Regions from separate parts of the Homo sapiens genome. Here all the other regions are linked to region 4. The links come from fine-mapping of genetic effects on gene expression. A gene starts in region 4. Each other region holds a variant in brackets. All regions are shown on one strand. Distances are between the middles of the regions. Region 1 overlaps SMCO4 (single-pass membrane protein with coiled-coil domains 4). Region 2 overlaps SMCO4 (single-pass membrane protein with coiled-coil domains 4). Region 3 overlaps SMCO4 (single-pass membrane protein with coiled-coil domains 4). Region 4 holds the start of SMCO4 (single-pass membrane protein with coiled-coil domains 4). Region 5 overlaps SMCO4 (single-pass membrane protein with coiled-coil domains 4). Region 6 overlaps DEUP1 (deuterosome assembly protein 1).

Evidence for each region. PIP is the estimated chance that this variant, and not a neighbour inherited with it, causes the effect.
Region 1: its variant is the best candidate, but not a certain one, in a credible set for the expression of SMCO4 in monocytes after LPS (Quach 2016, PIP 0.89).
Region 2: its variant is the best candidate, but not a certain one, in a credible set for the expression of SMCO4 in whole blood (TOPMed, PIP 0.81).
Region 3: its variant is the best candidate, but not a certain one, in a credible set for the expression of SMCO4 in whole blood (INTERVAL, PIP 0.80).
Region 5: its variant is the best candidate, but not a certain one, in a credible set for the expression of SMCO4 in whole blood (INTERVAL, PIP 0.80).
Region 6: its variant is the best candidate, but not a certain one, in a credible set for the expression of SMCO4 in testis (GTEx, PIP 0.65).

Annotation. Positions count from the first base shown.
Region 1 is chr11:93,521,000-93,524,999 of GRCh38, forward strand. All of the region lies in intron 1 of SMCO4 (single-pass membrane protein with coiled-coil domains 4), which reads right to left. Among named protein-coding and RNA genes, the nearest start is that of SMCO4, 20 kb to the right of the region's middle. RefSeq lists an enhancer at 3,101-3,200. The variant C/A (reference allele first, on the strand shown) is at 2,007.
Region 2 is chr11:93,495,785-93,499,784 of GRCh38, forward strand. It overlaps SMCO4 (single-pass membrane protein with coiled-coil domains 4), which reads right to left. Exons shown (of 3, transcript NM_020179.3): 2 at 3,492-3,564. Among named protein-coding and RNA genes, the nearest start is that of SMCO4, 46 kb to the right of the region's middle. The variant G/T (reference allele first, on the strand shown) is at 1,852.
Region 3 is chr11:93,508,037-93,512,036 of GRCh38, forward strand. The region is part of intron 1 of SMCO4 (single-pass membrane protein with coiled-coil domains 4); the gene reads right to left. Among named protein-coding and RNA genes, the nearest start is that of SMCO4, 33 kb to the right of the region's middle. The variant T/C (reference allele first, on the strand shown) is at 2,499.
Region 4 is chr11:93,541,826-93,545,825 of GRCh38, forward strand. SMCO4 (single-pass membrane protein with coiled-coil domains 4) reads right to left here and starts at 1,566. Exons shown (of 3, transcript NM_020179.3): 1 at 1,451-1,566. RefSeq lists silencers at 1,057-1,296, 1,427-1,476, 1,637-1,766.
Region 5 is chr11:93,478,829-93,482,828 of GRCh38, forward strand. It overlaps SMCO4 (single-pass membrane protein with coiled-coil domains 4), which reads right to left. Exons shown (of 3, transcript NM_020179.3): 3 at 1-441. The coding sequence starts at 361. The coding sequence ends at 182. Among named protein-coding and RNA genes, the nearest start is that of SMCO4, 63 kb to the right of the region's middle. The variant C/G (reference allele first, on the strand shown) is at 2,041.
Region 6 is chr11:93,401,195-93,405,194 of GRCh38, forward strand. The region is part of intron 11 of DEUP1 (deuterosome assembly protein 1); the gene reads left to right. Among named protein-coding and RNA genes, the nearest start is that of DEUP1, 72 kb to the left of the region's middle. The variant T/G (reference allele first, on the strand shown) is at 2,084.

The DNA.
Region 1 (4,000 bases), 21 kb before region 4:
TTGCTATATTCAGTTTTAGGAAACTGTTGTTTTTGATGAAAATACAAAGCACCTGGCTTTCCTAAGAAATGTCATTTATATTCTCAGATTCCACATGCAGCCATATCTCTGGAAGATGCTGTTTTCTCTAACTGGCAAAACCAGGACATCTCTTTGTATGCACACACCTGCTCTGTTGCAACATTCACTTCCTTTCACTGCCACAGCCAAACCACAGATTAGAGCTACAAGTTTAGATCAAGATCAATAACCATCACAGATCTGCAACTCTAGAAGGGGCTCCTGCAGTGGGCCTGGCTCCAGCTGGTGCCCTGGGACCCAACATGAGTCACTTAATCTCTCTTAATCATAAAACGAAGGGCAGCAGATAATGCTTACTAACTGCTTATCAGATGCCAGGCACTGTGCTAAAGCCACTAAACTCGAGCTAACTCATCTAACTGTCATAATACCTGAGGTAGGTACCCTCATCATACCCTGCCTAAAGATGGACAAAGTCAGGCTTAAAAAAGTTACCCAAAGTCACACAACCATGACACTGCACAAACAGAATTCAAACACAGGTTTCTCAGACTTTAGACCCCAAGCTCTTAACTATCACACTCGGTGTCTTTCTGCTTTCCTCATTCATAAAGCAAGGGTAAGAATACCTGTCATTTCCTTGCAGAGACAGTATTCTGCAAATTGTCCTTAACATCATTCTGACTATTCTTCCAGTCTGAGGGGTGAACTGTTACAAATTCTCCCAGACAGACCAACCAATCAGCTAAGTACTCAGTACTGGACTAAGGATGAAGGGAACATAAAAGAGAGAACATCCCTGCCGCCAAGGACTTCGCAATCTAGCCAATACCAATCGAAGCTATAATCTCTCTCAGATATTTTGATCATTGATCCACAGTCAGAAGTGTATTTCTATTATGGCCTGGGAGGGATGCACCTACACACAGCCTTACTGTGTGTCACACATTGTTATTTTTCACTGTTCTATTTCATTTAAAAATGTATCAACCCACTAAATCAATTCTCTGACTGTGGATTGTGATTAACAGTTTGAAAAGCCCCAACTCTAGCCCCTTTTTGGCACAAACTTTAAAACAAAACAAAAACAAAATGTCAGGAAGTTCTTCCTCAGACTAGTTTAAGTTTCTTGGGCTATCGGGTTAATTGGATTTGTATCGCTGAATATGTCCTCAGGGGCAGATGCACCAGCATATCCGATCTGTGAAGGGTATAAAAAGTGGACTCCTGCAGGCCCACATTCAAATGCTGACTCTCTGGCATGTTAGCTATGTGACTTCTCCAGATCTTGGTCTATAAAACAGAAGATAATTCCACTCACCCCTCTGGCTTTTTACAAGGGACCTACCTGGTACTGGTTCTGTCTTTCTCAGCAGAGGGGCTGTGGGCATGGGAGGAAGGGAGACAAGTCTGGTCATGTGGCACGACCAGTTTACGCAACACAAGACCTGTGGTAGCCAATTCCACCCCTCGGCCTGCTACCATGTTAAGTGATTCGAAATCCTTCAAATCTTTTATGCAGGCATCCGTTGTATTCCACATGGAAGTACAATAAATAAGATGCCTAAGATATAACAGGGCATAGGCCAAGTCTCCGCCATTGTAGAGCTTGCTGTTAATCTAGGCAGGTGGCCAGGTAAACAGGTAACTGTAACTGACCGCACCAGGTGGTATAACATAAGTCTGGGAGTCTGATGAGAGAGTGTCTGATGAGAGAGTGTCTCATGCAGGGAAGTCTAGTCCTTGATCCCATTTGCAATTCCCTTAGTGTCAAAAACCACACCTTGCAAACTTCTAATTTATAACACATAAAGACTTAAAAACCACTACCACCACACTGAGGACAAGAATCCTTGTCTGTAGCCACAGCAATAAGAGGGCTATCAACTCCAGTTCTATCTCCCCTACGAGATGCTAAGTTCCTTGAGACCTGAAGTAAGAGAATTGCTCAAGATCACACAGCAAATACACAAAATTGGAAACCC[C/A]AAAGATCAAAAATTGCAGGTCACTTTGCTGGTTCCTCTGGAATTTCCCCTATACTTGTCTAGGCTCAAACATAAAAACTAATGTGGAAAGGAGAGAGAGGAGAAGGGAAAAAAGGTCTGTCACTAGGTGACCAAAAATGTAAGAGCTGGCCAAGCACGGTGGCTCATGCCTGTAATCCCAGCACTTTGGGAGGGCCGAGGTAGGAGGATTGCCTGTCCCAGCTACTCAGGAGAATTTCCTGAGCTCAGGAGATGAGCTGTGATCACGCCACTGCACTCCAGCCTGGGTTACAGAGTGAGACCCTGTCTCAAAAAAAACAAAAAGACTTACCCACTAGACGCTGATTAGGTCTTTGAAGAGGTGAGACCACGCCGGGCATAGTGGCTCACGCCTGTAATCCCAGCACTCTGGGAGGCCAAGGCAGGTGGATTGCTTGAGCTCAGGAGTTCAAGACCAGCCTGGGTAACATGGCAAAACCCTATCTCTACCAAGAATATAAAAAATTAGCTGGACATGGTGGCACATGCCTGTAGTCCCAGCTATTCCGGAGGCAGAGACAGGAGAATCGCCTGAGCCTGGGAGGCAGAGGTTGCAGTGAGCTGAGATCATGCCACCGCACTCTAGCCTGGGCAACAGAGCAAGACCCCGCAAGAAATGAGACCAGAAAACCTCAAATTTAGTTTTTTAAGTCTTTTCAAGATAATTATACAATCAGTGAAAGTGTGTGTGCTAAAAGTGCTGACACGTCCAATATGTAAATTTAAAATACCCCGCTTTCTAAAATCGTGTTTTGGCATTTCCTCATTTTTAAAAATACTGGGCATTTCTGAGAGGCTGTGTGGTTAACATGGACTTCCTTAGTTTTGGTTTCCAGTAAATGAAGCATATATCAGCACCCCATTCCAAAACCAAAAGAATGAGAAAACCTTGGAAAGATTCTAGCTGAAACAGGGTTTTTAAGCTTCATCCTCTCCTTCTTGTTTTGGGGGAGGAAGTGTGCAGGGAAGATCAGTTACTAATGCCCTTCAGGGGAGGGGAGTTTCTCAGGCCTCAACCTCTGTAGCTGAGATCTGTATTTTCTTCAAGCCATCCTGGTTGAAAAATAAAAACAAGCGATTACAACACATTGAGCCTGGGTGATCTCACATACACTATCTCATATATATCTTACCACAGCCTCTTTTAGATTGTACTATCATCACCAATTTATAGGACACAGACTCAGAAAGGTTCAGTAACCAGCTCAGGCTCACAAAGCCAGGAAACGGCCGGGAGGGAACCTAGGATGGGACCACACATTCCTGAGGGAGAAGAGAACCCTACTGTGTACACGATCCCCAGGGCATTTGAAGAGGGCATTCTTTCACTTTCGGAATACAAGCTGATTTTAAACAGGCATCTTCTCGGTTGTGTTTTATGAAACTTACAGGGGAAGCTATGGTATAGAAGTATGCTACCTAAGAGTGACTTCCCTTAAGAATCCCCATCTGTAAAATGGAGATGATGACGACCACTCCCTGGGAGCACTGGACAAGACTTTCTGGGCAAAGTCCTGAAAACTCTGACACTCCACAAACACAAATGACCTGGAGCAGCAGCATTACTGCCAGGCCCCTGGAAGTAGCTTATGGGGACAAACTGAAGAGAAAGGCAAAACACACACTCCCCGCTACAAAAGTGCTTAGTCCTCCAAAATGCAGGGAAGGCACGGAGTACTGATGATGAGGAATGGTGGGTCAACAGCCAGTGCACACAGAGGAGGTGGTGCATCCAATGCGTTCCCCACCTATGTTAACTCACAGATCTCGCCTGCTCACTGCACTCATCCAAGGTCTTGGGCAAGGACCCACAGAAAAATAGTGAAACAGGAAAAAAATCCAACAAAGGGTATAAACTCAGAATTCTGTGATCCAGTCACACCAGAGTGACATCATAAAACATAACTCCAGTTCCACAAAGACAGATGCTTCCCTGGGCTGGGCGGCCCACATCC
Region 2 (4,000 bases), 46 kb before region 4:
TCTAGGAGTTGTTATTCTGGTGTTTGGAGGAACAAATCACTCCTTGTTCCATTTCCCAGAACACAATATTCATTCTAAGTACACCTTTGAGAGCCTGAGTTATTTTATTGCGTTTGGAAAATTGAAGTCACTGCAATCTTCCTAGGAAGTCAAGAGTGAAGGGGAGAATGTCTCACAAGCTACAACAACATGGTGCCAACAATGCTGTGCCTCTGTAGCCAGGCCTGGGGCCCAGACAGTGCAGTCCACTCCATGGGCTGCACTGGGCTTATGTGTTTCATCAAGTGCAGGATGAGGTCACCAACAGGTTTCAAGCAAGGGAATTACATGATTTGACAAGAATTTTTAAAGATTGCTCTGGGTCCAAATTGATGAGAGGAATAGAAGAAAAGGGGAAGCAGGCAGGGCAGTCAGTTAAGAGGCTTTGGCAGTCACCTGGCAAAGGACGATGTTGGCTTGGACTTGGGGGGCGGATACAGGAAGGCCATGGATGAATTCAAGATGTACTTTAGGAGAGGCATCATTAGGATTTGGTGATTTGGGGGAAGAAAAAGATGAGTATTAACAAATGAAGTACCAGTTTCTGGCCTGACAAAGTGAGTTAACAACTACGTACCTTAATAAGATGGGGGAAGGGAGGAGGCCTAGAAAGGGACTATGGTAGAAGTAGACCAAGAGTTAAAATCTGGACACAGTAAGCTTGAGGTGCCCATGAGATACCAAGTTTGCTAACTGCCATAAAGGGTGTAAGAATGCTATAGAACACAGAGGAGTCCTGGGGCCAGCCTCAGAGGTGACCCCTGTCTATCCTCTCATGGTGTCGGAGGTCCTGCCACTGTGCCAATTCAAGGTGGGCACAACCACTGAGGAGCACCTGGAACCCCACTCAGCCAGGACACATGAGGGTAGCCTCTATGAGGATCCTCACTAATGCAGATCCAGCTTTGGGGTTAAGAAAACAATAACCTTAACAGTAAAATGGTGCTTGCATCATGCCACAACTAAAAGTAAAATGTGAAGCCTGTTTCCTTTGATTACAAGCATCACGATAGGCTTGCAGATTTCTCGATACTGATGCTTCAGATTCCCAGTAAAAGGGTGTTGGTATCTGGTCCTGGGCCCCAACGCTTACACTATGGGGAGTAACCTGTTTGGGGGATTCCAGGTTAGAATTTCCCACAGGAAAATGTTAATCTAAGAGAGTATCAGAGGAAGGTCTCTCAACATAAAAAGACCAGAGATGGTGGCCTGTTTTAGGAAAACAACAATTCACTGAAATCACATCCTGCTTTTAATAGCCCCCCTTCTAGAATAGAAGCTGGTTTTTTATTATGATGGTTCTATTTTCCCATTTCCCCATCAAAGGACAAATCAAAATGTCACCTGACAATCCACTTTCATTAAAAGTTGAGCAATTTTTTAAAAATCACAGTTAACTAAACAATTCCACATGGCAATAAAGCACTGTGCTCTGCTGCCTTGACTGATAGAAACCATTTGCAATGATTTAAAAGAGAAGGAAGCGAAAGAACATCATCAGATACAGCTGAATTAAGCTGATCAAACCTGTTAGTGTCTTCCAGTTTACTCAGAGTAAGACAATGCAGCATTCATGTAAGCTAATTAAATTTCTTGTATTTAAATTAGCCTTAACAAAAACAAAACTTTCAAGACTGACTGGAAGGTCTCAGGAGGAACATATCTGCTTTTTCAAGAAAGCTGCCTGGCTGAGGGTGGAGGGAGCACCAGGGTCAGACTCTCAACAGAAGGTCAAGACTCCCCTCCCTCAAAGGAACACTGAGGGTAGAGACGGTTCTGTGACACTGTTAGTTTGCCATGGCTTCCAAAGGG[G/T]GGTACCAAGATCAGATGGTTGGGGGGAACTGAACCCCATTCACATCAGTTCATGATGTTATGCAAGACATTGAACTTCTGAGCTTATTTCCCAACTTTGAAAATGAGAAGTTACCACTTGCCTCTGCCTGCTTCCCAGGACTGGTGGGAGAAGAAAATCTGCCGACGTGTGTCAAAGCACCTTGCAAAAGAGAAAGCACTCTACAAATGTGAGAGACAGTTGCTGGTTACTGTTAGGCAGAAAGGGCTGAGTCAAGTCTTCCAAGATGATGGTGACCAATTAAACTGATTTTCTTTTTTTTGAGAACTGTCAGTTGATTATTTATTTTGTATAAAAGTTACATTGAAAGAAGAGGTTGAAAAGTCAAGTATACTAGATTTGCACACACTTGCGAAGTCTCACAGGATTCAACCACTTGGATAATTTCTTAATTGATAACAGGATATACATATTAAAAGCCTCACACTGAAGCCCAATACACGTCAAACCCAGACAACAATGTGCAGATGAATACGCAAAACAATCTCTGGAAATTTGTATCTCTGGGAACACCCACAATCTATGCTTTGTCCCTCTGGCTATGATGCATAAACTCATAAAATTAATAAGAAACTTTTATGGGATCTTTAGCAGTTACAGTAAACAGTTTGAGAAAAGGAACCTGCTGACTTATTCATTTAAAGGACAAAGGTTGGGGGCAGGGAGGTGGGTTAAGACACAAAGTCACTGAGTGAAGCAGTCGAGAGCATGGCACAGATGGAGAAGGTGATCCACCTGTGCAGCAGATAGGAGGGGCTACAACCACAGCGAGACCTAAAGCCCCCCACATGCAACCCCCACTCACACCCGCCACAAGCGGAGAAGGGGGCTGGGGAGCTGTGCTCCAGTGACCACTGGCATCCAGCTCTGCCTGTCACCTCCCTCCCCACTTCTGGATTCCTGCTCTTAACATGGGTCCAAAATCAAATGTGAAAAAAAAGTATCAGATACAAAAGCTTTGCTATTAGCTTCATTTCACCAATAGCCAAAGGACACCTGGCGAAGATCAGGAATTTCGGATGAATGCTCAAAGATCATAATGTATTTAAGAATGATTCCTAGTACAGGCCCAGTAAGGGAGGCGTGGTGGGGGTACAATGTGGGTCCACACAGGAGCAGGCCTCTTGTGGAGAGGCTCCTTCATGAGTCATTCGAGAAACATTTATGGAATACCGACTGTGTCCCAGGCACAACTCAGATGCACCCTTAAGCAGCTTACTGGGGAAAACACAAAAACAGGCAACGAGAATAAAGCGTGGAAGTAAGTACTATGATGGGGGGTGTGTCACAGACCTCTACCCGACTGGCCAAGAGAGGAAGGGTGAGACCATCAGGGGAAGGGCAAACGAGAACACAAACATCACAGGAAGGAGAAAGTGTCGTGGGGGTTCAACAGCAGGAGAAATCACCCGCAGCCTGGAGGAGATCCTCCACAAAGGACAAAGGTGGCATTTGATAAAGATCTTGAGGGATGAAGAGGAACTTGGCCAGGCAGAGAGAAGGGGTAAAATATTACACACAAAACTAGGCATATGAGAGAAATGACTGGGACAGTAACCTCTCCCCAGACAATGAGTTTCCCTTATAAGAGAATGTTTACCTTTTCTTCAACTTCAAGAATCGTTGATTAATTTCAGCAAACTGATTTCCAGTACAGGTGACTTGAGTTATTCCTGTTGAGAAATTAGAAGAAAGGGTATAATAGCTGCTGGGGAGGTATCCCTCCACAGACTCCTTTTTTGGAACCCCCTCAGCCCATGCTGAGAGGGCAGTCACACGGTTCCCCTCTCCCAACTGGCTTAGGGATAGACACTTGTCACCGCCCTGCTCCAGAAGGGCAGACAGACAGATACACTGGCACATGTGTGCATGTGCGTGATGGACAGGACCAAGCAGCCCCTGCATGGAGTTAGAGGGGCCTTCCCACTCCTGTGCCCAGCAGGCAGTCAAGCTTTGCTTCCTGTATTCCTGGGATTTCTACAACAAACTCGCTGCTAACTTAAGCCGCCATGAGACCATGGCTGTTCCCTGCAATCAAAAATCACTGATTTAAAAATGAAGGATACAGGTTTGGGATTAGAAAAGAAACAAACGCGGAAGGTGAAGGAA
Region 3 (4,000 bases), 34 kb before region 4:
TAAACAAGTTTATAAATATTTTTAAATTTCTTTAATTTTAATTTCTAACACAGTAAATATTACTAGATACAATCTATACAAACAAAAGCTCTTAGGGGAATCTCACTAATTTTTAAGAGTTACATAAAGGGGTCCTGAAACCAATTGTGGAGAACTGCTGAGCTAGTGTCGTAGCGGGCAGGTGAAGGGAGGGGGACACCACTGGTCTCCAACACTGGGATGGGGCATTCAGAGCTGATCTTCAAGAGCCTATGAAGGGTGCTGAGTACGAAAATGGTATGGACAGATTTGCCTTTTAGAAAAAGCAAGGACAGCATAAAAGTGCCTCTGCTCCATGAACATATGATTCTGAAAACAAGTAAGTATGATAAGAAGTCAAACTGTAGGGCGTTGAAGGTCCATTATTACAACCTAAAAAATGAAATACAAATTTCTATAAAAGAGCAGGAAGAGAAGAATATTAAAATGTAATGATTTAAGAAAGAAGAAAAGCAGGGTCTTGCCAAATAGAACTGCAACTGAATGGAATTCTGCAAAATGAGGGAAATCATTAGTAACAAAGTGCAGGGCTTTAAACATCTAAAGATGCCAGAATCAAGATGCATTTCAGGCAAGTCTGGAAAATAAAAATAAAGGAGTCAGCAAAGAGCAATAAACTACAGCAGTAAAGAGGGAAAATGAATGCAGCCAAGAAAAGATGAACAGAAGCAGTTAGAAATAAAAAGAAGTAGTGAGGAGAGAAAATTGGTTCCTATTTCCAGAGCATGGACTCTATCCAATCAGCACACACTCCACCACTGGAGGTGGGAAAAGAAGGAGCAGGAAACACTTCCAGAGCAAAGTAGACCTCTGCAGAGCCTGGACGAGCAGACCCACTGAGCAATGACCTCATCTAGGTAAAACTGGGTTATACCAATTAAGAACAGAGGCCATATAGAAGAGACAAGAGACAACTATTAAAAATTGCTCACGGCCAGGTGCAGTGGCCCATGCCTGTAATCCCAACACTCTGGGAGGCGGAGGTAGGCAATTTACTTCAGCCCAGGAGTTTGAGACCAGCCTGGGCAACATGGTGAAACCCTGTCTCTACCAAAAAAAAAAAAAGTTAGCTGGGCATGGTTGCATATGCCTATAGTCTCAGATACTCGGGAGGCCAAAGCAGGAGGATCGCTTGCACCCAGAAGCTCAAGGCTGCAGTGAGCTATGATTGCACTGCTGTACTTTAGCTAAGCAACAGAATGAGACCCTGACTCAAAAATGGAAAAAAAAAAAAAAAGTTGCTCACAAGGGGCTTACAAACAGCCATCATTTTCTAAGTCAAAGCAATTATGGGAATGCAAACTGGTACAACCACTATGGAAAACAGTGTGGAGATTCCTTAAAGAACTAAAAGTAGGACCACCATTTTATCCAGCAACCCCACAATCCCAGTATCTACCCAGAGGAAAAGAAGTCATTATATGAGAAAGATACTTGCACATGCATGTTTACAGCAGCACAATTCGCATTTGTAAAAATATGGAACCAGCCCAAATGCCCATCAATCAACGAGTGGATAAAGAAACTGTGCTATACATATACCACGAAAGACTACTGCGTCATAATAAAGAATGAAATAATGGCATTTACAGCAACCTGGACGGAACTGGAGATCATTATTCTAAGTGAAGTAACTCAGGAATGGAAAACCAAACATCCTATGTTCTCACTCATAATTGGGAGCTAAGCTATGGGTGCAAAGGCATAAGAATGATGCATAAGAGTGGACTTTGGGGACTTGGTGGGGAAAGGATGGGAGCAGAGTGAGGGATAAAAGGATACACACTGAGTATAGTGTACACTGCTCAGGTGATCAGTGCACCAAAATCTCAGAAATCACCATCAGAGAACTTATTCATATAATCAAACACTACCTCTTCCCCAAAAACCTATTGGAATAAAACTAAAAAAGCAATTAAAAGACTAGTTATAACTAAAAGAGAAGGAGGTCCTATAGAGAACTCCAAACAGGAGACCGCGTCAAGTTTCTCAAACTCTCTGGACTACAGTTTCCTCTTGCATAAAATGGGGAGTCCACCACCTACTTGACAAGGTTGGTGTGAGCATCATGGACTCTGAGTACAGGTCTGGTGAAGGGCAGATGCTCAACAAATGAAAGCTGCAATTAGTATCACCCTAGTTATGACCGCAGGGCCAAAGTGGGACCTACAGTTGTCACTGCACTAGCCTAGGCCAGAAAGCTCTCCAAGCTCAAATGTCAAGGTTTCAACAATCACCAATGTGTGAACCTAAGAAGGAATTTGAATGGCTTTGGCCTTAGGGCTACAGTCACTCTGCTGATGAAAAAACTGCCCTTGACCAACCAAGGCCTGGATCTAAGTGGAAAGGCACACTGCCAAGCACAAGGAGATCCAAGAAAGAAGAGATTTTTAAAAAACAGTCACTTTTCCTGAACAGCCAACACTGCCATGCCAGGGACCTTTTACACAATCTCCCAA[T/C]TGTCGAAAGCAGCCCAGATGTAGGCTTGTATGCTGTTACCACCCACCCCCAACCCCACTGCACCCCACCACAGTTTTATGGAACAGGAAGCTGTCTCATGGCTGAATTGCAAAGAAGTGGTGTAGTCAGGTCCTCCACCTCTTGATCTGCGGCTCAGGACTCCTTCACTACCACACTGCTCAGCCCACAAGGACTAAGGGCCTGCCCAACAGATGTAAGCCAGCAGCTCTTCATCTAGTTAGAGCAGCACACTGGGGATCCACAGATTAAAAGACAAAAACAGGCCACTGCAGTGGCTCATGCCTGTAATCCAAGCACTTTGGGATGCTGAGGTGGGCGGATCACTTGAGGTCAGGAGTTAAAGACTAGCCTGGCCAACATGGTGAAACCCCATCTCTACTAAAAATACAAAAATTAGCCAGGTATGGTGGCAGGCACCTGTATACCCAGCTACTGCGGAGACTGAGGCAGGAGAATCACTTAAACCCAGGAGGCAGAGGATGCAGTGAACCAAGATTATACCACTGCACTCCAGCCTGAGAGACAGAGCAAGACTCCGTCTCAAAATGGGACAAAAACAAAAAGCCCACTCAAAAGATTTTGACCCACCCACAGAAATAAACATGTCCAATTAAAAAAAAATGCTTTCTAGAAAGGTAAGACAGGAAGAAGAAAGGACTATTTTGACAGGGATAGACGATTCAGCCAAAAATGAGACCCCTCCCTTCCTTCACCTCCCACAGCTAATCAAACACCCAGTTAGGTTTTCCCTGACTGTCATGCCAGACGCTGCCCTAGGGACTGATGCAGGCCAGCCTTTGTGCCCCTGAAGTCAGCAAGGAACTACAGCAGGTCCTCAAATAGCATCATTGCATTATAACGTTGATAAAAAGAAAAAAAAAATCAATTCCCAGCTGGGGCCACTGTCTGTGTGGAGTTTGCACATTCTCTCCATGTCTGTGTGGGTTTTCTCCAGGTACTCTGGTTTCCTCTTACATCCTCTACAAATACCTAACTTGAACATCCCAAAGATGTTGGAGTTAGGCACTTATGTGTCTAATGGTCCCCATCGGAGTGGATGTGAGCGCACCTTGGGATGAAACTGTGTCCTACGCAGGGTGTGCTTATCACCTTGTGCCCTGAGCTGCTGGGAGAGGCTCCAACCACATGCTACTCTACACTGGAATAAGCAGGTTAGAAAATGGATAAATGAATGAATACAAATTATTGTCAAAAAAAAATTCATAAAGTATAATCATACAAATGCAGGACATTAACAATGTGGTCTGAAAGTGCTCAGTGAGCTGCCATATTCGTAATTGTTTTTAAACTGCACGGTAGGAGGAGATGACCCTGGTAATTTTCATTTTGTAAACATGACCACCCTCACTCACTGATCCACCAAAAACTGGGTCAATAGTGATCTCACTTGTTCTTATTAATTTTTCTTAAATGTAGGTATAGCTGCCATTTACTTCAGTGTTTAGTATTAGAAGTGTTT
Region 4 (4,000 bases):
ATTTTCTGTGGCTGATCCAGCCTTACAAGAAAAAAGATTTCACTGTGTCCCTCAGAAACCTACTCCTGTCTACATCACACTGTCGAGCTCTCTCTTTATACCCCATGTGACAGATAAGAAAACAGAAGTCCAGAGAGAGCAAGTGACTCATCCAAGGTCAAACTTCTTGCTAACACATCTAGGACGAGAATAAGGGCTCAAGAAGCCCACTATGGGTCTCTTGCCGTATCACTGCTGCAAATGACCAGGCATACTGGTGTCTTGAATACAAAGTTTATTTGTAAAGGGGAAAAAAAAAAAGCCAACATGAGTCATCTGCATTGTCAACGGGCTCCACACAGGTTGTTCTAATAAAGCATCCAGCACCTCCAGAACCACTTGTTTCTGAAAGCACCAACCTACGCAGACACTAGCAGGCCATGTCTTCCACCCTTGCCACCCTCGAGGCTGTGAGCAGATGCGCTGTTGGGCTCTGGGGATCTAGAGGTGTCACTTAAAGAGCAAGGGAGCCTGGAGCTTGGCAGTACTGACTGGATGAGTGGATGGGTGGGTGTATGAGGACATGGGAGTGTTTTCTGACAGCTCCCGGAGATAGTTATGATATCATGCAGCCTAATCCCACTCATCTTGGAACACCCCAAACATCTCATCCGCTCAGCTGTCCCTCCTCAACTTCCTCAGGGCAAAAGCACTGCAGTCTGAGGTGAATCTGGCCGCTGGGGAGGGGCGGTAGTCGGCCCCAGCAGCAGAGGAAGCAACGCTCAGCTCCCTCCTCCACCCACCCCGTACAGGAACTCCCCACTGGGTCTTCAGATGCCAGAGGCGTACCCAGCTCGGAGCCTGCCCCGGGTCTCAGGGTCGGTCCCGAAAGAACGGGGGAGGAGGAAGGCTCTATCCCGCCCCCGCCTCACCTCTACTCCCCGACCCCCAGGCGCCGACCCTTCTCACCCGCAAGGTCCGCCGCCGGACTCTTGTCCACTCCCAGAGACCCTGAGCGCACCCCTTTCTCGGCGTCCTCAAAGGACCCGCGTTTCCCACCTTCCCATACGGGGCCCTCCCGGCCGCCCCGGCCCAAGCCCTTTGCACTGCGTCCCCCGGCCCCTGAGTCCGCCCCGCACCCGCACTTCCCGCCCGGCCCCGCGGGCTCGCGGTCCGCCCCAACTTTTCCCAGCCCCCGCCCCGCAGCAACCGGGATGCAGCGTCTCGAGCCGCGACGGGCAGGCGAGCTCGAGTCCCTCGGGCCCCCAACCCCGCCCGCACGAGTTGCGCTCGGGACCCGCCGGGCGCCCAGGCCTGGGTCAGCAGCACTGCGCGGAGGCGGAGCCGGCGTGGCGGGAACCGTACTGTCCCGGCGCCGCACCCCCGCCCGGTGCCCGGTGCCCCGTGCCCCGCGCCCGCCCGCCGGCTCGCCCGCCCCGCCGCCGCCGCCGCCGCGCCGCTCCCAGCCCACCTGCCCGCGGGCGCCGCCGCCGCCGCCGCCACCACTGCCGGGAATACGTGGCAGTGGCCGCCGCCGCTTGCGCTCCCCGCCTCGCCTCTCCTCTCGGCGCCCGCGCGGGCGACTCTGGCGCGCCAGACCGCAGCGCCAGGCGCCCTCTGCCGCCGGGAAGCCGAATCCTCCCGTCCTAACCCTAACTCGCTGGCTGCCCCCGCCCGGGCCTCGGCTCCCGCCCCCTCTTCCCCGTTCCCGGCTCAGACTGTCGCTTCCGAGCGACCTGGGTTCTCGCCCGGCCTGCTGCTGCCGCTGCCTCCAGGAAGTTCGCCCTGACCACCTCTGCAGGCTCAGCGCGCTTCCTCCGGCTCCCGCGCAGCGGGTGCTTAAGTCACCCCCTTGTTGATATATTTCCTGCTTCTTTGAACGCCTCGCCCGTGAGATAGCAGAATCGGAAAGGGGATAGTTGGAGGCAAACGCCATGTCTGTTGTGTTCACCATTCTCTCCTCCAGGGCAAGGTTAGCGCCCTGTCTGGAATACTGAAGTGCGCAATAAATACTTGTGAAGAGAGCAAACGAGTAGATGAATGAGTTGAGACTTTTACCGCTGTCTACCCAAGTAGGCTTTGAAACCTCAAGCGGACAGAGATCCTGACCTGGATTTGTTTTTTGTAACTTACACGTGCATATGTGTGCGCAGCTCAGCATAAATAAATGAGATTCACAATTCCCCACCTCGGACCAGCGCCAAATCCGCAAGAGGCCCACGGCTAAATGTTATTCAGGGCTTTTGGTCAAACACGTTTAGGTTTGAGATCTACCTCTTAAAAGCTGGGCAATCGCGGGAAAGCTCATCTCCCTGGCCCACAGTGAACACGTCTATAAATTAAGAATAATAAAACCTACTTCACAGAGTTGTGAGAATTAATTGAGATGGTGCACTATAAAGTTCTTTACGCAGCCCCGATGTGTGCGGTGGTATGTAAATGGTAGTTATTGTTGTATTACTACTGATGCAGTAGGTGATTTTAAAAACTATCTTCGAAATGTAAAATATTGACTACCTTTTCACCTTAAAACCTTTATATGTGTGGTATTGTCACCTGCTCAGCAAGGCCAGCCCGGGGAGCAAGGCCACTCCTGTAACCTCTTCCCCTCCACCGGTAAAAATATAACAAGTCTTGGGGTTTTTTTGTTCTGTTTTGAAGAATTGTGGAACCCACTCTTCTGCAGGTTTTCCACCTGGATTTCTGTGGCCAATCTCTTAATTAACAAGTTTTTATTTTAGGGATGTCAAAGACAGGGAGCCCTTTGAAAGCACCTGCAGTCTACTGGCTCTTCCTGTTTTCTTCCTGACCCTCTCTCAAACAACTTAAGGCTTTTTTTTTCATTTTTACAGGAAGTGTCCTTCCTGCTGCGTACAAAAGGCAGCAATGCAGTAGAGTGGGATCAGAGGGGATTGGGCTGCATACACCTTGGGCTTTCTGCACCTCAGTCCCCTCAACGGTAAACTGTGGAGAATAAGACCTTGTCACATTGGGAGATCATTCATGATCCGGTCTGTGAAGGAAATAAGGAAATACCTGAAACACAAAGATATTTAATAAAAGGCAACTATTGATCAGTTTATTTAGCATGTATTTAAGGAGCATCTTTTTAGTGTTCTATGCGCTGAAAGAATGAGGGGAACACGCGTGTGTGAGGTAAGTTTCCTACCTTCAAAGGAGTTTGAGCTGTAGCTCCACACTAGGGCAGAGGGATTGGGAGCATATGGGATGCAGCTAAATATGAAATTAGCAAGCCTCAAGGTTTAAATTGGGGCAGTGGTACTGCCGTGTGAATTGCTTTAATTCATTATCATTGTAAATGCCATTTTCCTCTAAATATTATGTACACAACTTCCCAAGGCCACTGCTAAAAATTAATGAATAATTTTATGAGGCAAGCAGAGCCACTGATGTAGGACTCAGTCCCTTAATAAGGTGACTCCACATGCTCCCTTATAGTAGTAATAACATAGATATTGTGTCTGTGAAAGTGCCATCCTTGGCTGGGCGTGGTGGCTTACCCCTGTAATCCCTGCACTTTGGGAGGCCGAGGTGGGTGGATCACCTGAGGTCAGGAGTTCGGGATCAACCTGGCCAACACGATGAACCCCGTCTCTACTGAAAATACAAAAACTAGCTGGGCGTGGTGGCAGGCACCTATAATCCCAGCTACTTGGGAGGCCTGAGGCAGGAGAATCACCTGAACCCAGAAGGCGGAGGTTGTAGTGAGCTGAGATCATGCCACTGCACTCCAGCCTGGGCAACAAGAGTGAAACTCTGTCTCAAAAAAAAAAAAAAAAAAAAAGAGAGAGAGAGAGAAAAGAAAAAGAAAGTGTCATCCTTTATAGGTTAGAGTTGTGTATCTTGCAATGCAAGTCTCAGAGGAAAAGTTTACACATTTTACACTAATGGCTTCTAATGAATCACCCCTACTGAGTTGTCCTTCTGTAGCTCCCTCCCACGTTGACCCTGGAGTTGGCCTTGTGACTTCCTTTAGCTACTGGGACATGAACAAATATGA
Region 5 (4,000 bases), 63 kb before region 4:
CCCCTATTCCCTCCCAAGAAAGCGGAGATACTTTAATCAAGTCAAAGACCAGAGAAGACAGGGTGCTCCTGCTTACAGCTCAGCAACATGAACATCTCTGAATATGAAAGCCATTTTTTGTTTGCGTCCCCCTCCCGCGCCTCCTCTCCCTGCCGATGGGGTCCGCAGCCGGCTGCGGGGCTCACTCGGTGATGGTGGGGCGCGTGGCCACGTACACAAACACCACGATCAAGAGCACGACCACGGCCAGCGTGGGCAGCACCACTGTAGTGATCTGCTGCCGGGCCTCCTGCATGGCTTGCTTCCGCTCCTTCTTGTCCTTGGAGGTCTCCTTCTTGGGCTTCCCTTTGAGCTGCCGCATCTTTCCTAGAGGATGCTAGGAGGGTGTGTCCAGAGGGATTCCAGGAAGGGCCACACTCCTCTTGCCAAGGCTGGAACCTCCTGTAGAGAGAACAACTGTGATAGTAGAGAATAAACCAAATAGAAGAAAAAATAAATCACTTAAAGGCAAATACACAACTAGGAAAAATATCTGCAACTTACATGACAAAGGGCTAAGAACAGAGGCCACACCAGGCTCTAAGTTCTCTTGGGATCAGCGCTCTAAGTAGTGGGCACTGGGTCACCGGTGTGCTGTGAGAGGGGCCTCCGCTCCAGCGCCAGCTGGACAAAGCCCTGGGTACCAGACAAATAATACTGTGTTCTGTACATGCCATGAGGTGAAAGGATTGGGAAGCACCAACTACGCCGCCTCCACTCAGAGGAGCGGCTCTCCCTTTCGTGGCTCTAGCTACTTGCTTTCCTGCTCTAAGTTCCATGATCTCCCCAGCCCATCTCCAGCATGGAACTGCAGGCAGCCTGCAGTCTCCAGGCACGTAGCCCCCTTCCTGCCCAAGCCAGGCCAGCCTCATTAAGGCTGCAGAGAGCCCACAGGCATCAACTTCTCTCATCTCTTTGTTGGTTCCTTGGCCCATTCATCCAAACCTTCCCAAGCACCCACCGTGTGCCAAGCATTACTCAAGGAGCTGAGGATAGAGATGAAGGACTCAGTTGTGTCCCCACAGAGGTCACCGTCTAGGGGGCATGATGGAGACCCGGGTCACAGTAATAATGAAGGGAGACGGCTGAGCCCACAGTCCTGCCACCCACTCAACCTGGGATTCTCCTGTTAATTCTGTAGCTCACGGAGGTGCCTAACAGGTGAAGTAGAACTTTCAGGGGCCAGAAGAATGAATACAAATGTTTGGATAACTACAGAGGAACATCTCTATAAAAGTCGGCTTCTTAGCTTTAAGCAGATGAAGCAGACTTCAGCTGATTTAAATCGAGTTTACTTAAAGGCCTTTGGCATCTCACTGATTCCCAGAAAAGCCAAAGAACCAGGCTCAGAAAATGGGCAGGACATTATGCTGTGCTGCCATAACTGGAGCCCAACTCACACTCCCAGTGTGAGGATGCCAGAGCCTGCATCACCACCGTCAGCACTGGACATGGGCACTGGAGCAGGAGGTGCCGAGCCACCATGACCACCCCCAAAAACTAGATGTGGCTGCTGGCACAGTCTCCAGATGAACTCGCCACCCCCCAGCATTCTGCATCACCAGCTTCCATGCATGTGTGACTAGCCAAGCCCCGGCCCATATGCCCACAGCCTAGCCTTCCAATTTGTACAGCAGGAAGAGTACTTTTCAAACACAGTGACGGAGTGGGGTTGGGTATCAGGGCTATATCAAAGGCAGATGTCCATTACAATATTCTCGGAGAGTAGCATGGAGTGAGGGGTTCTTGGAAGCAGAAGAGCACTGAATACCAATGTTCCTCTAGCAGAGGGACCTATGCTGTATACTGTCTGCCCTGTTTTGTCCCAGGGTAGTGGGTGGCCTGTCATCATCTTGAGGAGGAAGATGACATTTACACCTAAGTGACCGAGGTGGTAGAATGTGAACTCAGAGTTGGGAAAGGTCTTACTGACACCATCCTGTTTTTATGAGGGATACTTAATCTCTTACCATTCCTCTCACTCCATTTAGACCCCAAAAC[C/G]TTTTTTGTATCATTCAAAATCAGGCAGAGTTTCCTAAGGTATGAGATGACAAATATTATTGTGCTAGGATGGCATAATGCCAATCAAAAGCAAACATTAAGGTTCAGCAAATATTAAGGGAAGCGCCATTTGGGCAAATGTATAATTTCCTTCATGAAATAAGGAACAGAGAGAAAAAAAAAAACACCTACTATTACTTTCTTAAGGCCTGAAAGGTATAGGAACCCCTGGCTTTACCAATTCTCCTTTTCAAGTCTTCCAAAGGACTTCCAGGCAGACTTGCCTTCAAATCCAGGACCAATCACTTACAGGCTAAATGGCTTTGAGCAAGTCACTTAACTCCACTAGGCCTCCATGCCATCATCTGAACAATGAGAACAGCTTGTCTTAAAGGATGACTGTGAGAATCTGGAAAACAAATGCATCTGTACCCAGAGCTCTGCCCGCCCGCAGGGACGCGGTACAGGTGGGCTGAGACATCTCCACCCATACCCGTGGGCGGCCCAGGGACGGGTGCACTGAGCTCCTCTAAGCCTGACTGCAGCCTTGAGTGATGCCCACCTTCGCGGGACCGTGGTGAGGATGGAGTAGGAAGCTGTATAACTCAGGGCTTGGCACAGAGCGGGCGGCGAATTCGTGCTAGCTGACATACCAACACCTGGAACACACCCCAACGGCCCTGTGAGTCAGACAGACAGGCTTTATTATCCCCATCACGGAAGGGAGGAAACCAAGGAGCAAAGGGGAAAAATGTCTTGCCAACAGTCACCCAGTTTGTAAATACCCCATGGCTTCTAACAGAGCAATGGACAGCATTCCTGTTCAAAGCTGCAAATGGCAGCCTATTCTCTCCGACACGGCCTCAAAAAAATTGTTTAAAAAGAAACAAGCCATTAGCAGCACTCTGATTCGTGGCCATTTCCTTGTGGAGCTAATGGCCTGTCGGAGCCCGCTGCTGTCTCTCCCAAATTCCTCACAGGACTGGCAGGTGGCACCCCAGGCCTGGGGCTAGCCATGCCCTGGCTGGCTGGCTAGCAGTGCTGGGCCTGACTTCCCTCCTGCACTTCATGCTGCTGTCTGCATCCACCCACACAAGTGTAGTTGACATTCAAAGGCCCCAGCCTCCACAATGACCAGTTCTCAACATTTGTAAGATGCATTCAGAAGTTCCTGGAGGCATGGAAAAAAGCCTCAAGCTGCTGGGGCCAGGGCCGGTCTGGTCAGGATTTAAAGGGCAAACATGCCCGTCTGAATCCTGGGTACTTCATCAGGCTTCAGGAGGAGCAGCGTCTCTGCTCTCACTCACCTGTGAGCTGGGGCAGCAAGGGAAAGCATCTCTGAGATAACGACTGGGGAGGGGACCCTATGGTGAAAAGGGACCAACCAGGAAAAAAGCTGGGAAGAGCACCAGGCAGAGGGCAGAGTGGCCTGAGCCAGGGAGGGCATGGGCACTGGGGAAGGGCGGACTCAAGAAGCGCATTGAGTGCTCTGCATGTGAGGATGCTTCTTAGACATCGTCATGGAAATAATATCAAGGAGGCAATTGGATAAATGAGTCAGGAGCTGGGTCTGGGCTGAAGATCTGTATTTGGAAGTCATCAACTATTGGATTAAGAGAGATCATGTCCAAGGCAGGCAGAGAAAGGGCCCAGGACTGAGTCCTTTCACCCTGACAGCTACAGGGCAGGAAGGGGAAGAGCAAGCATGGGGTACTCAGAGAAAAGGAGTGAGGCAAAAGAGAACGTGCTGTCGTGGGGACCAAGACAGTCAAGAAGGTCAACTGTGAGAAGACAGAGGCATTTGTGCCAGAACATAAGCGAACGCACTGCTTCCTTCCTCGGGAATATTTGGCCAGGGAAAAACTGTCAGTGGCACGTGCTCAGTGCAGAGCTGGCTGACACTCTGCTGCAAGCCCCTCTGTCTTCCGGTAGCTTGTGATGACGGGTCTGCATGCCAGCA
Region 6 (4,000 bases), 140 kb before region 4:
TAACTACAGAGAATATGAAATACCTAAGAATCAATTTAACCAAAGAAGTGAAAGATATATACAAGGAAAACTATATATCTCTGATGAAAGAAATTGAAGAGGATAAAAAAATGGAAAGATATTCCATTCTCATGTATTGGAAGAGTTAATATTATTAAAATGACAATACTACTCACAGCGATTTACAGATTCAGTGTGATCCCTATCAAAATGCCAATGACATTCTTCAAAGAAATAGAAAAAAAACTATTCTAAAATTTATATGCAAACACAGAAGACCCTGAATAGCCAAAGAAATCCTAAGTAGAAAGAACAAAGATGGAGACAGTATACTACCTGACTTCAAAATATACTACAAAGCTATAGTAACCAAATCAACATGGGACTGGCATAAAAACAGACACATAGACCAATGGAACAGAATAGAGAACCCAGATATAAACCAATGCATTTACAGCCAATTAATCTTCGATAACCACAATGAGATACCACTTCACACCCACTAGAATGACTAAAATTAGATATATTGAAAATAATGTATTTTCAAGAATATACAATAGGGAAAGGACAGCCTCTTCAATAAATGGTGCTGGGAAAACTGGTAATTACGTGTAGAAGAATAAAACTAGACTCCTATCTCTCACCAAACAAAAATCAAATAAAAATTGATTGAAGACTTAAATCTAAGACAGGAAACTATGAAACTACTAAAAGAAGACATTAGGGAAATACTCCATGACTTTAGTCTGAGCAAAGATTTTTTTGTGTAAGTTCTCAAAAATACAGGCAATCAAAGGAAAAATAGGTAAGTGGGATCATATCAAGCTGAAAAGCTTCTGCACAGCAAAGAAAAGAATCAACAAAGTGAAAAGATGACCCACAGAATGCAAGAAAATATTTGCAAACTATCCATATGACAAGGAATTAATAACCAAAATATATAAGGAGCTCAAAAAACTCAATAGTAAAAAAAAATAATTTGATTTAATAATGGCCAAAAGATCTGAATAGACATTTCTCAAAAGAAGACATACAGATGGCCAACAGGTATATGAAAAAAAATTCAGTATCACTAATCATCAGAGAAACGCAAATCAAAACCGCAATCAGATATCATCACATTCCAGTTAAAATGACTTTTATTTAAAAAGACAGGTAATAATGGATGCTGGCAAGGATTTGGACGAAGGGGAACCCTCATACACTGTTGGTGGGAATGTAAATTAGTATAGCACCTATGGAGAACAGTATAAAGTTTCCTCAAAAAACTAAAACTAAAACTATGATATGGTCCAGCAATTCCACTACTGGGTATATATCCAAAAGAAAGGAATCAATATATAAAAGAGATACCTGCACTCCTGTGTTTATTGCAGCATTATTTTCAATAGTCAAAATGTAGAATCAACTTAAGTGCTTATCAGTGGACGAATGGATTAAGAAATGTGGTATATATACACAATGGAATATTATTCAGCCAGAAAAAATAAAAAATAAAAAATAAAATCCTGTCAGTTGTAGCAAATGGATGAAACTGCTAGAGGTCATTATGTTAAGTGAAATAAGCGAAGCACAGAAAGACAAATATTGCATGTTCTCACTCATATGTGGGAGCTGAAAATGTGGATCTTATGAAGATAGAAAGTAAATTGGTGGTTACCAGAGGCTAAGAAGGATAGGGAGGAAGGGAGAATGAAGAGAAGTTGGTTAACGGGTACAAGTATAGTGTTTGGAAATATTACCTATTGTTCAACACTAGGTAACATATATGTATGATCTATTATACATTTCAAAATAGCCAAAAGAGAATAATTTTGTTTCTAGCATAAAGAAAAGACAAATATTTAAGGTGATGATACCTCAAGTACACTGATTTGATCTCTACAAATTATTTAAATGTACTAATTTATCCTATGTACTCTGAAAATACATCTATTGTGGATCAATAAAAGAAGAATTTAAAATCTGTGTGTATAAATGAGATTTGTATATGGTTCTTTTTCTACTTGTTTTAAGGTTATACTATATTTATAATATAAATTGAGAACTTTATGAGTTGTTTAGAATAGTTTAAGTAATATTG[T/G]AAGTATCAGTTCTTTAAAGGTTAGAAAGAATTTAGCTGTGAAACTGGACCTGGTAAATCTTCAATTATTTTTCCACTCTCTTTTAGAGTACTTGGTATATCCAAGTTTCACTACTACTACTTAGAAGTACTTTGTAGGTTATTTCAGTAATTTGTATTTTTCTAGGAAATCAGTTTCAACTTGTTTTATTATTACTAAAGGTAGTAATGTCCTACAGTTCTTTTTATCTCTTCTATATTCTGTTTATAATTCCTTTCTTATTTCTAAGCTTGTATAGTTTAGCATGCTCTCTATTTTTTGTCTTAACTCTGACTCACAAGTGATTTATTTTATTAGCATTTAAAAATATTGGCTTTTGGATTTATTATTCTTTTCATACATTTTTCTTAATTTTATTATTTTTAGTTTCATCAGTTAATTTTCTCTTTCTGCTGTTTTATTTGGTTATCCTTTCTCAATGAAGAAAATTTATTGAAATGAAGAAAACTTTATCATATCTATTATATATTAAAATTTCATAATTAGGAAAAAATCCATAATTAGTTAATTCTTTCTGAAATAATTGGAATGCATAAATATAAAATTAAATAATTGGTGCTGAAATTTTACGTCAGGCAACAGAAACAAGATATTTACATCATTATTTTTGTCTTCTAAAATATGTGCTGTTTGGAAAATATTAAAATAATAACTTTTTCCTTTCTACAAGGAAATTACTGATCTTCAGGTTGGTTATTTCTAACCAATTATAGCTTTGAGAATCTTTCTGCTTGACTACCTATGAAGCTGCCTGCTCATTTCCACTTAGAGAATGAAAGTTTACCACAGGCAGCCACCCAGTTCTAGGAATGCATGGGGTTATGCAGCTCCCATTTGGGGAATGTACTGATGGGACTAACTACCTGGTATCTAAGGTTTCCTGGGTGTCAGTGAGGGACGTAGAATAGTGGAGAAAAGTGAAGGGTTTTCTCTTATTCTGCTCTTGGGTAGCTAACAAATAATCAAGCTTATCGTCGTAGGCTTTTTAATGCCATATTTACTTAGTCCTTCAATTGTATTATTAATTTTTCTTTTATTTAAGAAAGTTGTAATAAAATCAGATTTAATTAGAACTCAGAATCTGTGGTAATTTTTAAGAGGACTAATTTGCTTTTCACCATCCGTAAAGTTTTCTAAATAAAATAGTAACATAAAAAATTAGTACCCTTACAATGATTAAAACATCCATTTACGTACTGAAAATTAACATACCAACTACAAAACATCATTAAAGCCAGTCTTTCTGTCAAAATGCTTTTTTAGCATAATTGTTACTGTTAAATATGCATAAGAAGAAAAACCATACATGCAAAATATTATTTAGACACTTCAGTAATTAAGCCAGCCTCATCCTAATCTGTTGAAGTAAATGAGCACCAGGAGGTTTTGCCATTTCAAGAATAAAGAAATGGATTAAAACTATCAAACTCTAAAATTTTGAAAGAAAACAAAAGTTGAGTAAATGGGTAAAAAGAATCCATTAGAAACACAAGAGGTGGGGGTGGATATATTCCTGAAATCATTAGAAATGCATTTAAGAAAAATATTAAATTAAATGAGAGGGACCCAAAAAAGGGTTTTGTAAAGGAAAATGTACTCTTAAATGTAAAACATGCAAATACATTACCTGTGTAATTCTTTTAGTTCATGCTCACAACACTTATTTAATTATGGTACATTTAGGAAATTGCAGGGTTTTAAAAATCATTATTATCATTCTTAATTACTTTAAACCAACATTGGATAAAAAAAATCACAGATTAAATCTAATTTTATAGGAAAAGCTTAAACAAAATTTTAACTAAGCAGCCGACCATCAAGAATTCTGTACTTTGACTGGTAGATATCTTATTAAGAGTCAAATTTTGAGTCTTATT